2 separate regions of the Homo sapiens genome follow, and region 1 is linked to region 2. Evidence: fine-mapped expression QTL. A gene starts in region 2. The other region holds a variant in brackets. All regions are shown on one strand. Distances are from middle to middle. Region 1 overlaps NFIC (nuclear factor I C). Region 2 holds the start of NFIC (nuclear factor I C).

Evidence for each region.
Region 1: its variant is fine-mapped to the expression of NFIC in tibial artery (GTEx, PIP above 0.99). The same link has a PIP of 0.9 or more in esophagus muscle, lung and sigmoid colon.

Annotation. Positions count from the first base shown.
Region 1 is chr19:3,459,297-3,464,762 of GRCh38, forward strand. It overlaps NFIC (nuclear factor I C), which reads left to right. Exons shown (of 11, transcript NM_001245002.2): 11 at 3,456-5,466. The coding sequence ends at 3,473. Among named protein-coding and RNA genes, the nearest start is that of SMIM24, 18 kb to the right of the region's middle. RefSeq lists enhancers at 3,243-3,778, 3,779-4,314 and a silencer at 4,766-4,966. The variant T/C (reference allele first, on the strand shown) is at 2,751.
Region 2 is chr19:3,364,315-3,369,524 of GRCh38, forward strand. It overlaps NFIC (nuclear factor I C), which reads left to right and starts at 2,269. Exons shown (of 11, transcript NM_001245002.2): 1 at 2,269-2,352. The coding sequence starts at 2,323. RefSeq lists silencers at 1,898-1,987, 2,438-2,587, 2,878-3,277, 5,049-5,210.

The DNA.
Region 1 (5,466 bases), 95 kb after region 2:
CCTGGTCAGTTACCCACCCATCGCCCCATGTCCGTCCCTATCAATCCCCCCACTGTGAGGCTGGGTGGCTCTGACGCCCTGGCCCCTCCCCTCTGTGATGTCCTTCACGCCCCTACATTTCTCCTGCACGGGAACCCACGTAAGCAGCTGGGTAAACCGAGGGTGGGGGGCAAGGCGGGCATTGAGCCACATGCCGGGAGCCACACAGGCGGCTGCAGCCAGGCCAGCAGGATACCAGAGCCCAAACCTCCCCCTTCACACCTACTGCCTCAGTCTCCCCTCAGCTGAGTGGGAGGATGTGGAGTTGAGGGTGCCCCCACCCCACCCCCGCCCCATTGCTGGGGCCACAGCCAGGCAGGAAGGGGAGGGGAGGGAAGGGAGGAGGGAGGAAGGGCTGAGGGGAGGCTGGTCCACCACGGGGAGGGTCACGCCCAGAGTCTGTCGGTTGCCAACAGAAACCAGACATGAGGTAATGGCCAAGATGAACTTGAACTTGGCTGGAGGTGGGGCGCTGGGAACCACTGTGGCGCCAGTTCCATGGGCTGGCCCAGTGGCTGCCTGGTTGGAGGGGCTCTGTTGAATGATTTGCTGCAGCGGTGGGGGGCGGCCCCACCTCTAACCTCAGTTGGGGAGTGGAGGGGTCTCCCCAGTTCCAGAGGCACAGCCCTCCCCTCACAGTCCACCCTGGATGCTCCATCTGGGGTTGGAGTTTGCGTTTCCAGGGCAGGGGTCTGGACAGCAGCTTCTCTGCAGAGACTGAGGCCGGAGCTGTCCCCAAATGACGTGACCTTGGGTACAGCCCCATGCAGAACTCCCCTCCCTTAGCCTCGGTCTCCCGCCTCTGGGAGGTTGAGAGTCATCCTCAGCCCCCCTGTGCTTAGTGAGCTTCTGTGGAGCAAGAGGGGGCCATCCGGGGGACCTGTGACAGGATGGGCCCTGGACGCCCAGGACAGTGCTCAGAAGATGCCAAGGGGATTCCTGAGAGGCAGGCGAGGGGGTTGGCCCTGGGCAGGAGCAGAAATGAGAGCCAGAGCCAGACAGGCCTGAGTTCAAGTTCCACCTCTGCCGCTTCCATGCTGGTGACCTCGGGCAAGTTCCTTGACTTCTCTGGGCCTCACTTTCTTCACACAAAACAGCGGTGGAGGGAGACCTACCCCCTCCTTCACGGGGATACCGGGGACATCATTAAAGAGGAGAATTTTTTTTTGTTTTTTTTTGGTTTTTTTGGTTTTTGTTTTGAGACGGAGTCTTATGCTGCCCAGGCTGGAGTGCAATGGCACGATCTTGGCTGACTACAACCTCCGCCCCCTGGATTCAGACGATTCTGCTGCCTCAGCCTCCCGAGTAGCTGGGATTACAGGCACGTGCCACCACGCCTGGCTAATTTTTGTATTTTTAGTAGAGACAGGGTTTCACCATGTTGGCCAGGCTGGTCTCGAACCCCTGACCTCAGGTGATCCACCCACCTTGGTCTCCCAAAGTACTGGGATTACAGGCATGAGCCACCGAGCCCAGCCTCTTGTTTACTTTTTAAAAACATTCTCAAGGCCATGTGCAGTGGCTCATGCCTATAATCCCAGCACTTTGGGAGGCCAAAGCAAACGAATAAGCTGAGGTCAGGAGTTTGAGACCAGCCTGGCCAACATGGAGAAACCCCGTTTCTACCAAAAATACAAAAATTAGCTGGGTGTGATGGCGCATGCGTGTAATCCTAGCTACTCGGGAGGCTGAGGCAAGAAAATCACTTGAACCCGGGAGGCAGAGGTTGCAGTGAGCCAAGATCGTGCCACTGCACTCCAGCCTGGTGACAAGAGCGTGACGCTGTCTCAAAAAATCAACAAAAAACCTCTTTATAAAGTGAACAAGGCAGCTGATGTGGTGGCTCATGTCTGTAATCCTAGCACTTTGGGAGGAAGGAGTTCAAGGCCAGCCTGGTCTACATGGCGAAACCCCACCTCTACAAAAAAAAAAAAAAAACTAGTCAGATGTGGTGGAACATACCTGTGGTCCCAGCTACTCGGGAGGCTGAGGTGGGAGGATCACTTGAGCCCAGGAGATGGAGGCTGCAGTGAGCTATGATGGCACCACTGCACTCCAGCCTGGGCAACGGAGCAAGACCCTGTCTCAAAATAAAATAATAAATTGGCTGGCCACAGTGGCTCACGCCTGTAATCCCAGCACTTTGGGAGGCCAAGGTGGGCGGATCACTTGAGGCCAGGAATTCAAGACCAGCCCGGCCAACATGGCGAAACCCGGTCTCTACTAAGAATACAAAAATTAGCTGGGTGTGGTGGGGCGGGCCTGTAATCCCAGCTACTTGGGAGGCTAAGGCACAAGGATCACTTGAACCCAGGAAGCGGAGGTTGTAGAGAGCCAAGATCACACCACTGCATTCCAGCCTGGGCAACAGAGCAAGACTCTGTCTCATAAATAAATAATAAATAGAGAAGAAAATAATTTTTAAAATATAAAATAAAGGCCAGGCAGAGTGGCTCACGCCTGTAATCCCAGCACTTTGGGAGGCCGAGGCGGGCGGATCACGAGGTCAAGAGAGTGAGACCATCCTGGCCAACATGGTGAAACCCTGTCTCTACTAAAAATATAAAAATTAGCTGAGTGTGGTGGCATGCGCCTGTAATCCCAGCTACTCGGGAGGCTGAGGCAGGAGAATCACTTGAACCTGGGAGGCAGAGGTTGCAATGAGCCGAGATCATGCCACTGCACTCCAGCCTGGCAACAGAGCGAGACTC[T/C]GTCTCAATAAATAAATAAATAATATAATATAATAAAGTAAGATTGAGTTCCAGACTGGGAGTGCTGGCTCACACCTGTAATTCCAGCACTTTGGGAGGCCGAGGAAGGTGGATCACTTGAGGTCAGGCGTTTGAGACCAGCCTGGCCAACATGGTGAAACCCCATCTCTACTAAAAATACAAAAATTATCCAGGTGTGGCGGTGGACGCCTGTAATCCCAGCTACTCGGGAGGCTGAGGTAGGAGAATTGCTTGAACCCAGGAGGCAGAGGTTGTAGTGAGCCAATATCACGCCATTGCACTCCAGCCTGGGCAACAAGAGCGAAACTCCATCTCAAAAAATAAAATAATAAATAAAATATAAAATACAGTTCCAGATAAATGGATCTTTTGTGTGTGGTGTGTAAGTATATCCCCAATGTTGCGTGGGCTAGACTTATACTAAAAGAATTCTGTGTTAACCAGAACTCCAGTTTCACTGGGCATCCTGTACTGTGTCTGGAAGCCTCCCTCAGAGACAAAGTCACTTGCCATGGGTCACCCAGCAGGTTGTTAGAGCCTGGGATGGGGAAACTGAGGTCACAGGGTTGCAGGAGGTGGGGGGTGAGCGTGGGAAGAGGTAAACCATGTCTGCAGCAGAGTCTGACCCCTCGACTTCTCTCCCTTTTTCTCTCTCCCTCTTTCTGTCGCCACTGGGCCACTCAGTCCTGGTATCTGGGATAGCAAAGGTCTTCTTCCCTCGCCCCTTCTCCATCGTCCCAGGAATCCCAGGGGGCAGCACAGCCGGCCCCCGGCCCACGTTTTCGGTGGAAAATTAGAGTGAACAAGAACACCCCTGCCGACTCCCAGCCCGGCCAAAAAGACAAAACACATAGACGCACACACTCAGGAGGAAAAGAAAAAACAAAGGCAGAAGAAGAAGAAGAAGAAATAAAAACCCACCCAAGCAAGAAGACAAAAGGTAAAGACGCAACGTTTCCAACTCTCGGGACGCCAAGGCCGCAGGACTGGAGGGCCAGGCCCCGCCACCCCCACGGGAGACCCGGGACAGGGCGTCTTCCTAAGTTATTCATCTCCTCTCCGCCTGCTGCTCGGGAAGGACAGACGCCGGCCGCCCGCCCGCGCCCCGGAGGCCCTGGCTCTGTCCGGAGACCAGGTGAGCACAGCCTGGAGCCTGTGCCCAGGGCCGACAGGCGCGACACCCAGCAAGGCCACCTCTCCCCGGGCCCCCGCGCCTCTGCCGGACACGGACCGGCCCCTCAGCCCCCACCGAGGACGCAGCCACTGGGGGGAAAGGGAGACACAGCGGACCCCGGCCGGGCAGCGGAGACCGCAGAGGCGGGCAGGGTGGGGCAGGCGAGTGGTGTCGCGGGGGTGCGTGGCGCTTGCGAGCCCTGGCCAGGGGAGGAAGTGAGGCCCAGGCACCTGCTGCCCCTCGAGGGGGCCCTGCCTGCCGCGGGGCCTCCCCACAAGCCCCTCCCAAAGCGCCGGCCGACTCGCTGTCTCGCTGGGGACTCTTTCAGCCCTCGCGCCCGCCCGTTTGGGAGGAGAAGTCTCTATGCAATTGGCCCCGGCCCCTCCACCCCCCACCCCCGGCATAGGAGGCCCCCCCACCTCGCCCGGCTCACACCCCCAAAGGGAGGGACCCACATTGCACACACTGTAAGAAATGCACTTTCCGAGGAAGGGGATGGGGGAGCCCGGACACCCAGAGCTCCCCGAGTTGGGGGTGCCCGTCTGGAGCGCCCCCGTCAGCCCCTGGCGGTGGGAGGTGAGAGCGAGTGGTTTAAGTGCCTGATTACCACCACCCGCCCCCCCCTTTGTCCAGCTGGGACACGGAATGGCCGCGGGCCTCCTCCCCCTCCCCTCCAGCCTCTCCACCAGCCCCTCCAGTCAACCCTCATCGCCGTGCCCCCCCAGAGCTAGAGAGATGGGGCCCCTGCGTGGCCCGAGGGGCAGAGCTGGGCGTCACTTCGCAAGCGTCCTGCCCTGCCGGGGCGCGGGGGTGGGCTCTGGGGAAGCCGGTGCGCCCCCCACGCCTCCGCTGCCAGTGCCTTACATTCTGGAGCGACCCCCCTCCCTGGTGCCTCCCAGCGAAGGGGGACCGCCGTTTGCACTTTCATCGCCTACCCCGACGCGGGGCCCAGCTGCGGGACGTGCATCACGGCTGGGCCCCCAGAGGAGAGAGGAGGCCGACGCCAGCGGTCCCCGCTCGGAACGGGGAGGGTTTTCGGGGGGTTCGGCGTCGCACCTTGGGGCCCCCCGCAGCCGTGTAGGGGGCCTCCCATCTGCTAAGCGTTTTTCCGTTGAGCCGCTCCAAAAACACTAAGCTGGGGACGCCAGGTGCCCCCCCACCCCGGCTCCCTGGCCCTATCCACACCTCCACCCCCACCCCAGGATCGCCATCTTTAGGGGAGGCCTGGGAGGGGGTGTTAGGTGTTTTAGGGCCACCGAGCTCAAACACAAGGACCCCTCCCCGGCCCACCCAGCCCAGCCCCAACTGACCTCCATGCCTAGGGAAAAACTCCCCCCACCACTGCCCCCTCCCCCGACCCAGGCCAAAGCCAGGGCAGGTCTCCGGGTCTCACCTGCTCCTAGCCTCACCCCCCTGCCCCCGAAAACCAGACTCTCCTCCCAAACTAGCCTCAGGAGCTTGGCGAACCCGCTCGCTCCTAAAGAGAAAGACCCAGGACCCTCCCCCATCACCCCCAAGAGA
Region 2 (5,210 bases):
TTTGCTGACTTGCCTACAACCTGGAGGGTTATGAGCTGGCGTCGCCCCATTTCACAGAGGGAGAGCCGAGGTGCAGAGAGACGAAGCTGCTGACTGGAGGAGACATAGACCCAAGCAGCGAGCCCACGCGGCAATTTAGGGAACCAACTGTGTGTGCTGCGGGGGTCCCTTGCCACCCAAACTGGGATATAGGCTGCTGTTCGTACACTTGCAGAAGTTTCTCCCTGCAGCTACCGCCACCAATAATATTCACACAGCCTTCCCACATGCTATGTAAAGACTCCAACCTTCCCCACCTCCCAAGATGCATCCTGTTACTATAGCCATTTTACAGATGAGGAAACCGAGGTTCCAAGAGGGGCAGTCTCTGCTCTCTAAACTTCACCTTCCAAAGGATTCTAAGCTGCTGAATGAAGGCTGCAGGCAGGGTGGTCTGTACAGGGGAGGGAGGGTGGAAGGCACGGGGTCTGGAAGTCTAGGAGGAGTGTCTGAAGTCAACTGCAACTTTTAAATATCTGTGAATTTTAGATTTCACCCTGTATGTGTCCCTAGCGTGTTTTAATAAAATAAATTGCTTCACGTTATATTGGTATGTGGATTTCCAGATACACTTCTCACCATTTAATTCAAATGCTCCCCACAGCTGCACAGTGGGTTTAAAATACACAGACACACACATTTATGGACCGTTCGTGATGTACTAAGCACTGTTTGAATAATGTCACCGTCATGCAGAGGGGAGCCTGTGGGGGGCCTAGGGAACCTACGCTGCAGGAATTCTGCTCCCTCCTAGTTTACCTGTCAGACCCTGGGCAAGTGGCTTCCGTTCTCTGGGCCTCAGTTTCCTCTCCTGTAATGCCTGAGGATAATGGGTGCTGGTATCTTCTGCGCCCCTGGGCCTGGGGCACCTGCCCCAGCTTGGTGAGAGGGTATCATTTGTCCTTGGGAAGCTCAGAGAGATGAGGTGAAATGGCCAAGCTTTCTAAGAATGTGTCTTTAGTGAACATTTGACCCAAGGTCAAGGCTCTGCTAAGGTCATTGTCCTTATCCCCAGCAATCCCACAGGATGGGCATCTTTAAGCCACTTTATAGGGGAGAACCCTTGGGATGGGAATGAGAGACACAGCAGCCTCTGAGCTAGCCTGGGAGGATCCAGGGAGTGAACCGGGGGAGGGTTGGGGCCCTGTCATCAGATGCCCTGGGGGCTCAGACGGAGGCAGGCCAGGTCTCTGCCCTGTTACGTCTAGAAGGAGAACAGAATGTGGGCTCCAGGTCCAGATGGCCTGGCTCCAAGCCACACTTGCCATACCTCAGTCTTGAGATCTGTGAAAAGGGCACACCCCTGAGGCAGGTGGAAATTATTGGATACCCAGGGGGAGGCTGCAAGGGTTTATCTGGCCAGCTGGAGATCCCGCCTGGACACCGTCCTCCTGGGGTGCTGGAGAGACACACAGGCGAGGCCACCCCTCCCCTGCCCCTTGGGTGCTGGGTGAAGAGAGCAAATTCTGGAGCCTCCCGTGTTAGCCTGGGCCCTTCTGGCCAAGGAAGGGACAGCTGCACACAAGCCCCTCTAGCTGGGGACCCGCAGCCCCTGCCTGGCTCTGGGGGGAGAAGGGAGCCAGGGTGCTGTGGGACCAGCTCACCGTGCACCCAGGGTCGTACATCTTTAAGGGGAAAGAGGCGCGCTGGCCGGCCTCTGCGCACGTCACTTCTTCATTCCTTCCCTCCCCCCTGGCTCTTTCCTCCAACTTCCCGGCCAGCTCGGGGGTGATGGGGGGGTGGGGAGGGGGGGCCTTAAAAATCCACCCCTGGCCCCTCAATGTCCAGAAACAACCCTGTCCCCCCTCTCCGCTTGATCCGAATTGGGGTCGCCCTGCAGTCCTGGGGTCCTGGTCTAGTGCCCTGGGGCATTGCGTAAATACGGGAGGAGCGGGGGGGTCCTGAGACGTCGGGGGAGGCTCTCCTTTCTCGCTCGCGCCCTTTTTTCCCTCGTTTCTTTGAAAGTTGGGTGTTGAGAAGTGGGAGGTTCGGGGTGGGAGGGGGAGGGTGTCAGAGGGTAGAGAGAGAGACAGAGAGACAGAGACGGGGGAGAGAGGAAGAGAGAGACGGAGGGAGAGAGGGACAGAGAGCGAGGCGGGCGGCGCGAGAGAGGGAGAGCAGGAGGGAGGAGGAGGGAGACCGAGGGAGGAGGCGGCGAGGAGAGCGCGCCGGCCGCGGGGCGGGGGGGGGGGTTGGGGGGGGCGGGGGGGTGGTTTGGAAAAATGACTCAGTAAGTTCAGCGCGCCCGCTCCGGCCGGCCCTGCGCCTCCCGCCGCGCCCGGGATGTATTCGTCCCCGCTCTGCCTCACCCAGGTACGGTCCTCGCCCGGCCCCCCGCCGGCGCCCCCGCGCCCCCCGCATCCCAGCCCCGGAGTTTTGAAGCAGGAGGAGGCGGGACGAAAAAGGCGCGCGTCCCTCCCGCCATCCCTGCCCGGGATGCCCCCCGCGCCGAGGGCTGGGGTCCGGTGGGGGGATGGGTCAGGCTGGGGTACCCCCCCCACACCCTTACCTACCGCGGACCCCCTACGCGGGACTCCCGCCCAGCACCCCCAACCCCGACTCTCGGGACCTCTCCCGGATGTGGGGCTTGGTCTGCAGATTTGCGTCCCCCCCCCACACACCGACGCACTCCGCACCCCCGCCCCGACACTCGGAAAGGTCGGGGTGGGGGCTGGCCCCCCTCCAGCAAGGGCTCTGCGGGAAGCCCCCCGCCTGCCTCTGAGAGGAATCTAGGGGGTCGTGATTGGACCCTGGGTCTCCCCAGCTGGAGAGAAAGGGACCTCTCATGTGTTTTCCCCGTGTCCCCCCACCAAGGTTGTGCGGGCCGCCCTGGCCCTCGGTCGCCTTTCCCTCGTTATTGGCCCACGTGTGCATGGAGGGGGAGGGGGCAGGAGAAGTTGGAGGCCCAGGAGGGGGAAGGGTGCTCCGGCGGCCCGGCTGGGTCCCCCCTCCTTTGCAAGCCCCCCAGCACCGTCCCGGTATTTTCGCTGCATCGATTCTGGATTCTGGATTCTGGATTCTGGAGCCGCCGCCGGGAGGAGCGGGAGGCCCGGCGCTCCGGGTCTGGCCCGGGCACTGCGGCGCTGCGGACGCCCTCGCCAGCCCGGCACCTGCCCCGTCCCCTCCCCCTCCCCCTCCCCCTCCCGTAGCCTCTCACCCCTGGCCGCACTCCCAGACTGCCCCGGGGCCGAGCCTTGTGCAATGGCCGAGGGGGTGTGTGGGGAGGGGGCGGCTCCCCCCGGGGACTCCTTCCAGCCCAGGCTCCCGGGGACCCCGAGGTCTGCAAGTTCCGTTTTCTAGACCGCTGCTTTCCTCCTTACGCAGTGTGTCTTTAGGCTGGAGAGGTTCTGGCCTCAGTTTCCCCTGAAGTGAGGTGCGGCTAAGGCCGGTTCTGGAGAGGGGACAGTATGGCGGGCAAACTGTAAAGTCCCGGCACGTGGGGGGTGCGATTCCAGCGAGGGCCAGGCCCGTCTTAAGAAGCACTGTGTGGGGAGTATATGAGTCCCCGGCTTCCGCTCCAGGGCATGGTGCAGTGAGGGACCCCCCACGCCAGGCATGCTCCTTGGTAGGGTCTTTCTCACCGGCCCCCTGCAGCCGACAGGGAATGTGGGAGCTGGTGCTGAGGGGGTCTGAGGTCTGTCCTACCTGTGATCCCCTGAGTGACCTTGGGTAAGTCCCTGTCCCAGCCTCAGTTTCCCTTTCTGAGCAGCTTTGGGGGGGGGGTTCCCGAAGAAGGCATCTCTTTGAAGTTCTCCAAGAACAACTAGGGTTCGAGTGGGCACGCTGTGTGACCTCGGGCAGCCTTTGAAGTCTCTGGGCTTGTGGGGTGACTGAGGTGTCCCCGCTCTGTCCTCACCAGCTGGAAGGAGCCATTTGGGAGGGCTGAGCGGAGGGGAGGCTGTTCCAGGCTGGGGAGGTTGGAAGGCTGCCTGTGCACCCTGGAATTCCCCCATCAGGGCTGGTTGGGAGACATCCTGGTTGCTGGGGTGGGTTGGGGGTTAGTAAGAACCCCAGTCCAGGCTTTGCCTCAGAGAATTGCTAACTCGGCCTCAGTTTCTCCAGGAACAGGGCAAGGACCAGCCAGGAGGGCTGTCTGTGGAAACCAAAAAACGGAGAGGCTAAAAACTAAAAACTATCCAGGGGTGCTGCGTGCAAGAGACAGAGATGAGAAGACAGAGACAGGCAGAGAGACAGAGGCAGAGAGCTCCCAGGCCAGAGTGGGGACAGCGAGTCCCAAGTGCAGGGGGCTCCCTCCTCCCCTGCGATTCTCCTCTCTGCCCCGCCCTCCACCCCAGCCCTGTAGTGGAGCTGGGGACCCCCTTTCCAGTTTGTCTTCAGCCTGAATGTAATCCCCACTGTTCCCCCAAGGCCCAGCCTGGTCTGGGGTAGCCAGTGGGGTGGGCTGGGGGACTCAGAAGGACCCTGAGTGCCCCATGCAGGAGCCTCCCACCCAAGTCCTGGCTGCCTGACTCAGTTTCCCGAATCACGTCCCCTCCGTTTCTCTCATCTTGGTCTCTTTTTGTCTGTCTTTCTCTCTTTCTCTCTGTCTTGCTCTGACTCTGTGTGTGTGTGTGTGTGTGTGTGTGTGTGTGTGTCTGTTTCTCCCTGTCTCTCCATCTCTGTCTCTCCCCGCCTCTGTTTCACTCCCAGTCACTGTTGGTCTCTTTGTGTCTCTCTTTCTCATCCTCTGTCTCTCTGATGTCTCAGTCTCTCCCACTGTCTCTGTCTCTTCATGTCTATCTCACCATCCCTTTCTCCTCTTTGTCTCTGCATGTCTCTTTGATGTGTCTCTGTCTCTCTGTCTCTCCCTCCCTTTGCCTTCTTTGTGTGTCTGTCCGATGTGTCTCTGTCTGTTTCTCTGTCTCTGTCTCTCTGCCCCCTTCCTCTCTGTCTCTGTTTCTCTCCAATATGTCTGTCTGTCTCTTCATCTCTGTCTCACCTTCCCTTTCTCCTCTGTCTCTGCGTGTCTCCCCTTGCCCCCTCTCTCCCTGTCTCTCTCTATCTCTGCATGTGTCTCCTTACTCCTCTCTCTCTGTCTCTCTCTGTCTCTGGGCCTCCCTCTCCCCCTTTTCCCAGCTAATTTTACAACCTGAGCCCAACCGAAAATAGCTCCCTTTTAGCTGATCCGACCCGGATCCTTCTCGGGAGCCGAGGCTGGCGGGGGGTGGGGG